Regions from separate parts of the Homo sapiens genome. Here region 2 is linked to region 1. The links come from fine-mapping of genetic effects on plasma protein levels. A gene starts in region 1. The other region holds a variant in brackets. All regions are shown on one strand. Distances are from middle to middle. Region 1 holds the start of CA1 (carbonic anhydrase 1). Region 2 overlaps RALYL (RALY RNA binding protein like).

Region 1 (5,389 bases):
GGGAATTTCAACTATCAAATTACACAGTTATAAGTTATAAAAGAAGCTGGGCATGGTGGCTCATGCCTTTAATCCCAGTACTTTGGAAGGTCCAAGCTGGTGGATCGCTTGAGGTTAGGAGTTCAGGACCAGCCTGGCCAACATGGCGAAACCCCATCTCTACTAAAAATACAAAAATTGGCCGGGTGTGGTAGCGCATACTTGTAATCCCAGCTACTCGGGAGGCTGAGACACGAGAATTGCTTGAACCGGGAGGCAGAGGTTGCAGTGAGCAGAGATCATGCCACTACACTCCAGCCTGGGTGACAGAGTGAGATTCTGTCTCAAAAAAACAAAAAAGTTATAAAAGAGGTAACTTTAAAAATTGGGTAAGGGGGCCGGGCACGGTGCCTCACACCTATAATCCCAGCACTTTGGGAGGCCGAGGTAGGCGGATCATCAGAGGTCAAGAGATTGAGACAATCCTGGCCAACATGGTGAAACCCTGTCTCTACTAAAAATACAAAAATTAGACGGGCGTGGTGGCACATGCCTGTAGTCCCAGGTACTCCGGAGACTGAGGCAAGAGAATTGCTTGAACCCAGGAGGCAGAGGTTACAGTGAGCTGAGATCACACCACTGCACTCCAGCCTGGTGACAGAGAAATTGTCTCAAAAATAAATAAATAAATAAATAAATAAATAAATAAATAAATAAATAAATAAAACTAGGTAAGGGTACACATGATATACTAGACTGCATGAAACAGTGTGAATTTGGAAAGCTCTGTTACCTCAAGGAGATGCCCAGCAGATTGACTTTCGGGTCGTGTAGAGGCACCCTGGGCATGTGTGGTACCTAATTAGGTCCCTGACCCTCTCTCAAATTCTTTAACTGACACTTCAACCCTGGCCTTGATTCTCTGATACAGTATCCTCAGCCCAATCAGATCATACATCTATCTATTCTCTTTATTTGCATAAGTGGATTTACAATACTGGGAGAAGAGAGAAATAACTATAAGAATGTTGAAGTTAGTCAAATCCACAATATTAACACATTTGTATTAACTTTAGAAATTTAATTATTTAATCCTTGAGATAACCTATGAAAGATTGTTTGTTAAGTTACTTGAAGCATTTAATATAACCTGATATATTAGAAAATCAGATATATGAACCATATAATTTCAATTTTAAAGTACAAGAGCATTTTCTTCAGTCTATACACAGTGTTTGAATGTTTAAGAGAACATAACTTACTACTGCATAAATTTGGTTTATTACTTTTACTGGAATTGCTTTAATTATTAGAGCCCCCTCCCTCCTTTTATAAACTTGCAAGATGTATAAAAGATACTAATGTGTCAGGCATTTGAAATGCTTGAGAGATTCAGGTAGACTAAATTTGTAATTGATATAATATATAATATTTAAAGGAACTTAATTAACCAAGTCTATCAATTGCATTATTTGTTTAGGGGAATTAACGTCAAATTGAACATTAGTCATGGAATAATTTTAAATGGTAATTTATATTGGCTGGGCACAGTGGCTCACGCCTCTAGTCCCAGCACTTTGGGAGGCTGAGGAGGGCAGATCACCTGAGGTCAGTAGTTCGAGACCAGCCTTGCAAACATGGTGAAATCCCCTCTACTAAAAATACAGTAATTAGCCAGGTGTGGTGGCATGTGCCTGTAATCCCAGCTACTCGGGAGGCTGAGGCAGGAGAATCACTTGAACCTGGGAGGCAGAGGTTGCAGTTAGCAGAGATGGTGCCACTGCACTCCAGCCTAGGCTGCCAAGTGAGACTCTGTCTCAAAAAAAAAAAAGGTAATTTATATTATCCTTTTCAGATTTACAGATTTACAGAGATCTGCTTGATAAATATAAAAGGTTTAGAAAAACTATAAAGGTTTTTTAAGCTTTGCAGCTTTCATTCATTGAATAGTAATTAAGATGTAGGTAGGACTGTATTTTACAAGATTTAAAGATTCTTTTGGCAGTCGGATAAAACACTTCAATGCTCAGCTAGATGAAAGGCAGAAGTCTTTGTTACTTACAGCTCTGAATGAGAGAAGGCTGCCACAGAGGACCACGCAGGGGGTTGCACCTGAGGACTGGGTACCACAGGCTGGAGGGGGAATGGGCAGCTTATGTACAGCAAAAAGGGTGGGGTTAGCTAGGTTGAATAATTTTGAATAATTTGCATAATTTTGGCGGGCTTTGGGGCATGGGCGCTGTCCTTAATTGTCTGATGTCTGGCCCTGTGGTGATTAGAGTGGGTACATAGTGGCCCCAGAGTGTGAGAACCTGATAAGGGAAGTGGTTGGGGTGTGGATTTAATCAGCTGCTCAAGAGAGGAAACTGACCAGCCTCTAGCCAAGGCCTCCATACTAGGTCAAGACAGCACAATAATCAATAAAAATACCATATATGAAATATATTTAGTCACTGATTCCTTTATATCTTGATGTCGATTTTGAACTCAATTATTTGGGGTGTTTGAGTGGCCTGAATAGTAGAGGAGACTTCTACAGAATAGGGCCTAAGTTGCACTAAACAGCATAGAAAACATTTTATTATGACAATAACAAGGAAGAAACCAAGTAGAAATGTGACAAGTCCCTGAAGGCTGACTCGTAACCAGGCTCCCATTTGTTTGGCGTTGGCCAGGAGAATACATCAGTCATGGCAAGGGCCTTTAGTCATATTTTGACTGGATTTCAGAGTGTGTTAAATATGTAAGGCATGTTTTTTTAGGGTGATGGTTTTCTGATCCAGGCTTTCTGTTAGAATGACCTCTTGATTGGTGGTGTTAACCCACCTACAACAAGAAGCTCTAATAATGTTACAAACACCTCTTTGACTAGTTAATATATAATCAAGGACAAATTTACTGTCAAAAAACATTTTTGCCAAAGCTCCCTGGTTTAGCAGGACTAATATTTGCTGTAACTTAGAAATATGATATACTAGAGTTTTGGACATTTGTAGGGTAGCATCAATTATTTTTGACTGTTGGGCTAAAGCAATGGTCCTTGTGGCCATCGCAGCAAGTCCCAGAGCAGTGGTGAGTCCCAGTATTATAGGTACAAATGTGGCACATCAATGACATTTGGCTGGGTAGGGAAAGAATAATTAACATTTATATAAATAGGAATGCCAAGAGAGGCCAGAATGCATCTCGTGGCTTCCAGTTTCAGAGTAATGGAAGGGCAAAGGAGAGGGGATAAACACCCTTGTTGGTTGGGACACAATATAGTTTTGTGGCATTACCATTAGACTGGAAAATTGTACCTTGATTTAGGTAAAGGGAAATTACTAAAGAATGGGACTGGAGGAAGACAGTGGCTTTTGTTGGGCATATGGTGAGAATATGCAGTTGTTCATTGGGTAGCCCATCTGTGGTATGTATTGAGGAAATACGAGTGCAGTTGCCACTTGCCATGAGGGGGCACCCCAATACAGAAGAAAAGGCCGTTTGGAAGTGGTTTTCATTTCTCAGTATTTTTCATCTCTGGGGCAATTATCAGTTGGGTAAATGTGTGATGTGGGATATGTGGAAGCAGGGTGATGAGTTATGGATAGTCAGTGCAGAAGAGCCTACTTCAGTCAAATGTGTTTGTATTTTGGATGTCTGTATAAATATCAGAGAAGCTGGGGCAGTGGGTTTGAATTTTACTTACGTAGTCTTTTAGAGGGCAAGAGGAGAAGATGCTGTTAGGACGGAAAAGATAGGGGTGGGAGTAGGGATACTGACAATGAGAAAGGGAAGGCGAGGAGGATGGAAGGGAATAAATGGTTTGACAGTCGGAGACCAGCAGATGCTCCTTTTACTCCTAGGAGAGCACACAGGGTGGAATACTTCAGTCAGGTTACCCTTTAGGCAGGAGAAGTGGGTGGGATTAGCAGGAACCTGAATCTTAGAAGCATTAGGGAGGTATTGGACTTGGTCTCATAAGGGCTAAGCCAGGTATAGAGTGGAATTACAATCACAGAGAGCAGAACTTCGAGTTTTATAGGTGTCTGTAAAGTCTGGAAAGTTACTCCAGTGTTGTGGGTCTTGCTTTTTTAAAACAGAAGTCAGCAGTGTAACCAGCTACTGGAAAACCAAGAGCCTCTGGTCTCCTATGAATGGCAAGACATTCCATGTGCTAGTGTAGTTGGCACTGCCCATAGTTGGTTGGGAGGCAGGGGGCATGTCATCTTTAATGGCATGGTCTTGAGCTAGGGCAGTGTCGGACTAGGGTATCCTTCCCACATGGATACCCACTAGGGTTGATGTGGGCTGTATTTTTGTGACTCTGTGGTGTTATAATGGGGCTGAGTCATTTGTAGAATTTGAATACAATGTTGGGTCCTGGGAGCTTGATTCACAAATGTCTTTTAAGTCAAAGGCTTTGTGGGTGCACAGCTAGCAAAGATGCTGGCATCCAGAATACTCCTATAATTGGACCAAAGTGCCAGAATCTGAATGGTACAATCAAAGTCTCAATTAAAGGCAGCTAAATGTCCCTACAAAGGACAGGATCTTGTTCCTTTTTATGGTGGCGTAGTATTCCATGGTGTATATGTACCACATTTTCTTTATCCAGTCTATCATTGATGGGCATTTGGGTTGATTCCACATCTTTGTTATTGTGAATAGTGCTGCAATTAACATACATAAGCATGTATCTTTATAATAGAATGATTTATATTCTTTTGGGTGTATATACCCAGTAATGAGATTGCTGTGTCAAATGCTGTTTCTGGTTCTAGGTCTTTAAGGAATTGCTACAATGTCTTCCACAATGGTGGAACTAATTTACATTCTCACCAACAGTGGAAAAGCACTCCTATTTCTCCATAGCCTCGCCAGCATCTGTTGTTTCTTGACTTTTTAATAATCACCATTCTGACAGGTGTGAGATCATATCTCATTGTGGTTTTGATGTGCATTCCTGTAATGATCAGTGAGGTTGAGCTTTTTTTATGTTTCTTGACCACATATTTGTCTTCTTTTGAGAAGTGTTTGTTAATGGGCTTTGCCCACTTTTTAATGGGGTTGTTCATTTTTTTTCTTATAAATTTGTTTAAGTTCCTTGAAGATTCTGGATATTAGACCTTTGTCAGATAGATAGATTGCAAAAATTTTCTCCCACTCTGTAGGTCACCTGTTTGCTCTAATGATAGCTCCTTTTGCAGTGCAGAAGCTCTTTAGTTTAATTAGATCCCATTTGTCAATTTTTGCTTTTGACATTTTTGTCATGAAATCTTTGCCTATGCCTATGTTATGAATGGTATTGCCTGGATTTTCTTCTAGGGTTTTTTGTTTTTTTTTTTACTTTTGGGTTTTCATTTAAGTCTTTAATTCATCTTGAGTTAATTTTGTGTAAGATGTGAGGAAGGGGTTAAGTTTCAATTTT
Region 2 (5,389 bases), 500 kb before region 1:
AATATTTCCCTTTGAGGAACTCTGTAAAATTCATTATTATGTAAAACAACCCTTACAGCAAAGGACTTTGATAACCAATTTGCACTTCAGTTTAAAGGATTATGGAGAACTCATTTAAATATGGAGAACTCATTTAAATATAAATCACCTCAAAGAGAAAAATGTGGTCCTTATTCCATCATAATATACCTTTCAGTTTGCTGCAATGACTAATACCTTCCATATATCTTTTTGGAAGATCATTTAGAAATGTAACACTAAAATTCAAAGCTTGCATCTTTTTTTCATGAGATGTCACTTACTTTTGAACATGTTTAAACTTTTACAGTCATGAGACAGTTGCTTTTAAAATAATAAGACTTAGTCCTTTGATATTTATGTCTCTTTAACTTTTTATGAAGAAAATGAATTTGTAACTCCATTCTTTTAGTAATTGTTTCCTGAATAGTGTATTTATAGAAATAAAAGATAAATGTTTTATATATTTTACTATATTTTCTTCACGAAAAAAATCAGGTTTGCTTGGAAAGAATTAACACTACCTTATGGAAAGTAGAGTGAAATGCACTAAAACTCATTTTAAAATGCTCAGTGGCTCCTTATTCAAGGGGACAGTCATTACAATGCTTAATTAGTTGAAAGCTAATTACTTACTTGGTAGCTAGCATTTACTCTTCATTATTACTCTTTCATAAATTTCTCACTCCTAATTTACTATTAGTTATTTATTTAATAGTGAAATTTTCCAGCAGAGAAATAATGGCAGGAAGGAGATGGAGAATCTGAAAGTGTGGGGAAGGACACACAACATGGGCTGTGCCTGAGGTCAAGTTCCATAGTATCTTTTTTTTGGAAGCGAACTCCTAAGCTCTCAGTACATTACTTTGGATTTTCTATACCTTAAATTGCTCAAATAGATGTGTGTGTGGTGTCCTGTCATTTGAGATTGTTAAGTTCCTCAGAACAAGATCATGTCTTCTCTTCCCTAACTCTACCCAACACCAGGTATTATGTACTGGGCACAACTTAGCAAGTCATTTAACTCTCTTAGGTCTCAAGTCTTTCAAATGTAAACTAGAGGAATGGGTTATGGCCTCAAATGTATATTCTGGCTTCTAAAACTATGATTACTGTGAATCCACCATGCATGTATTATTTTTTCCATTACATCACACAACTTCTTTGGGGATATAGTGACTATGTAGATTATAGAAAACCACAAGTAACACTTAAAATCAGTTCGGCCAGCAATTTTGCCTCATTGTTAGATGATTCTTTTAAAAGAGCCGCATATAAGTTGCCACATATGCATAGCACAAATTACATGCTTTACGCAAAGATGTTAAGTGAACAAAAACAGTGAAAAGCACAAGAAGGAAAAGTAAAAAGACTGGATAGCATGCAATGGGAACAGTTACTCCATGGGTAACTACATTTTTTAAAAAATTACATTTCAAGTGCAGACTTTCTGAAGTGAAAAGGCAATTATTAGACATTATTTAGTTCAATTTTATTCTCACTGTTATTCCTGATACATGAGCAGCCAAGTCTGACTGGGACAATTCCAGTGATAACATTGGGATGTTAGACTTACGTCTTAGAGAGGTTACAAGCAGGAGTCCCACAAGATAAATTCATCCTACCCATATGTTTGGTATAAGAGATGAAGTTTTCAAAAATAAATTAATGTCCAAAAATTGGAGTATTGTAAACAAATCTCAAAATATGAGCTCTTTTGAAAATATTGAACTTTTCAATACTGCTACTCAATCACTCTACACATGGCATGCACTTTTCAGTTTGCTAATATCTTTATCCAGCCAGTTCATGTATTTATATTATCTATTTGGTCCCTGTTCACATTCATGTCTGAGACTCCCATTGCAGGTTTTCCTTACACTGAGCTAAAATGTATTTTGCTTTCACTTGGTTCAGTTATCACTCTTATGTTCTCTGAAAAGAAACTTAATGTCTAATTCTTTGTGATACAACAGTCAATTAAGAATTTAAAGGGAGTGGCCGGCCGCGGTGGCTCACACCTGTAATCCTAGCACTTTGGGAGGCTGAGGCAAGTGGATCACTTGAGGTTAGGAGTTCGAGACCAGCCTGGCCAACATGGTGAAACCCTGTCTCTACGAAAAATACAAAAATTAGCCGGATGTGGTGGCACATGCCTGTAATCCCAGCTACTCAGGAGTCTGAGGCAGGAGAATTGCTTGAACCCAGGAGGTGGAAGTTGCAGTGAACTGAGATCACGCCACTGCACTTCAACCTGGGCGACAGCGAGATTCCATCTCAAAACAAATAAATATATATATATATATATACACATATACGCACACACATATATATTTAAAGGGAGCTATAGTATTCTCACCCCTCCAAAACCTTTGAACAGAGAGTTGATATCATTGGCCTATGGGTATTCATCTTAACTGCATTCAAATTTTGATCACAGCATCGTAGAGGCCTTTTTGGTCTAGAGAAATATCAACAGTTCCTTTAGTTGCTTCTCATTTAACTTGGTTTTGCACCTTAAACTATTGCCATCTCTCTTCTCTAGTCATTATGTAGTTTGTCAACACAGATTACGTTGCTCAGAATGGAAAGTGTTGCTCCAGATATGATCTGACTGCTGTAGCCTATAACATGACTACCATTTCTGTTCTGAATACCTTACTGCTCTCATTGACACTTCAGATTGAATTGGTGATGCTTCCGGTTAAAGATGATGAATTAAACACATGAATTGAGCAGTGTTTTCTCTTGAAGCTGCATTAAAAACAAGGAAAGGGTTTAGCAGCTGGACAGGA[G/A]GTATACCTAATTTAGCACATCCTAGAAATCCAAGTCCAATTTTAATCACAAACTCCCAAAAAGCTCAGAATTCAAGGCATCATATTCCCCTGGAAAATAAATGGTTGAAAGTCTGTTTAGGAAACAGATTCCTATGTCCCAGCTATCCCAACTGCACTTTGAAAGAAGGCTGGAGAAGTTTCCTCTAGTGAAGGTAAAACAGTGGGTCTCAGGGCTGGTAGACAATAAGGAAACTTGAGAGCACTTAAAAGCAGAGAGGGAGAAAGTTTCCGTAATTACTGTAGAAATGCCCACCTTCTCCCTGACTCAGCTACCACAGCACTGGCAGGACACTAGAAGAGTCTTCAGTTGAGAACATGAGCAGCCCAAGAGGAAAGACTTAAAGATGCTGATAGAGGGTCAACTAAGGAATCACTCAGCCAGACCACCTACAGAGACAGTATCTCTCTATACTTACAAAGTTGCCAGTCAATATTTTAATGCCCTACTGTTAATGTGAACAAACAAGAATCACCAGATCAAAGAACATAGTTAATAAGCAAATGCCAAAAAAAAAAGAAGTCAGAGGAAACAAACATATACAGGAAGAATAAAACTTCAAAAAGAAAAAAAAAACACTAATACCCTCAGAGAAATGAGAAGATACTGTAATAAAAACATAAAATTATAGAACTGAGTATTCAAAGCGCTGATAAAAGAGCTTTTATAAATTAACATATGATAGCACAAATAAATAACTCAATACAATGATTGGAAGACAAAATTGGAAAAACTCTCCCAGAAAATATGGAAAAAAAAACAGAAATGGAAAATAGGGGAAGGATATGAGAATTACACGATGAATATCTGAATAAGCTTTAGTTTCAGTTTTCCTAGGTCATCTGTATTCATTCTGAGTTGGGTTTCAGTTTACCTATGTGGGAACCCAAGGCACGGGAACCATCTCAGCCTAATGGCCTTCCAATTAACTGTTTTAATATGCCCTTTCTCTGAAAAGTACTAAAAAGAGTACTTCACCAAAAACACAGCGATAAACCAAGAAAGAGGAAAAACAGAGCCTTCCTAAAGCATGGACTCTAAAAGCAAAAAACAAAAGGAATTCTCAAGATAGAGGTAACAGAGATCCTAGGAGATGAGCTGTGCAAGAGATCTGGAAAGAAATGAGTCCAGATCAGAACTGCTCAAAAGCTCTGGGATAGACTTTTTAAGACATCAAAATTGATGAAATAGCTACTGGGTGGGAAAGAGGATTGGTTGAGAAGGAGGGGTAAGTTTGCATAAGTACGTAAAGAGAAGCACATAGAGAACGAATTTTTAAAACTTGAGGCAATTTTTAATTCTAGAGAAAATAAAATATTCTTCAGGAAAGAAAAAGTATTCATCCTGTACTAACAACTTAGCTGCACAAAGTACTTTCACCATAAAAATTGTGTAAAAACTGAAAATTTATTAAATCCAATTTACAATATGATTCTCTAGAGAGATGGGAAGTGAATGGGGATTATAGGACCAAGAACTGAATCCTCAGCTTCCTAGGGATAATGTCAACAGATAGTGCATAAAACTGATCGAGAAGTAGCAATATAAACAATATTTAGAGATAGGAGTGCATGTATTTAAAAGATTCAGCCAAGTGAGTGGAAAGCCTTTAAGGAGCTGGAAATGGTGAACAGGTAGGAACAAAACGCTGCTGTTTTCCATAGCAAGCTTGTAGAAATATTTGAGTACAAAAATTAAATATTTTAAAGAAGTTAAATATAAGGGGGTGAAAAGACATTGAGTTGTCCTTAGCAACTAGATCAAACCTTTCAACTGCTTACTGGAGTGCTTCCTGTAGTGCTTCCTCAGTTAACTGTAAAGGCAAGATTGCCCTGGACACTTACTAAAAGCAGCAAGGAAGGCTTTGTTCAAGACTATTGCAATAGGAGATAAAATTGAACTCAACTCTGCAAAAATAAAAGGCAGAATAATTTTTTGAATTCTAGAATGAGCTAAAGGCAGGCAGATTCTTGAATGCTGGAGCAAGCTAATGGAAAAGTATTGGGGGATGTTGGAGGAGGATATTTGGCCACCATCTGTGTTTGCTAATTAGCTCTTATTAAAGTTAGGCTGCTACTCTCCCAAGGAGACTGGAAGACAATGGCTCTATCTTATTCAATGATAACATGTCAAAGAGATAGCTCCTGAATCTTAAGAAAAATATTCCTGGGTTACAGAAAATTTGCCTCTCAAATGGGCAGAGAAAGAATTTACAATTGCAAGTTTGCTAAAGCAAACACTCTAAGGAAAGGATGCTCCAGGGCCTATGGTCAGGAAGAAACCTACCTGTAGTTTAGTCAAGCCAAGGGGAATATTGAAGCCATCTTGTGAATAACTCAATCACAGTCTTTCAAAATTGAATTCTTTCTCCTCACTTTCCTACCTAGATATACTCCTCTGTACCCTATCTCTGTCATCACTATTACATAAATCCTGTCCATCAAATTGCCAGTCTCAACATTATCCTCTATTCCTACCATAGCAGTGTTGCCAAATCTTACCTTGGGTATATTTTTCACCCCTTCCCTCTATTTTC

Evidence for each region. A credible set is the group of variants that fine-mapping cannot tell apart. PIP is the posterior inclusion probability: the model's chance that the variant is causal. Sun 2018 read protein levels with aptamers (SomaScan).
Region 2: its variant is the best candidate, but not a certain one, in a credible set for the plasma level of the CA1 protein (Sun 2018, PIP 0.75).

What each region holds. Positions count from the first base shown.
Region 1 is chr8:85,376,005-85,381,393 of GRCh38, forward strand. CA1 (carbonic anhydrase 1) reads right to left here and starts at 2,109. Exons shown (of 8, transcript NM_001128831.4): 1 at 2,042-2,109. RefSeq lists a promoter at 2,137-2,928.
Region 2 is chr8:84,875,188-84,880,576 of GRCh38, forward strand. All of the region lies in intron 7 of RALYL (RALY RNA binding protein like), which reads left to right. Among named protein-coding and RNA genes, the nearest start is that of LRRCC1, 230 kb to the right of the region's middle. The variant G/A (reference allele first, on the strand shown) is at 2,814.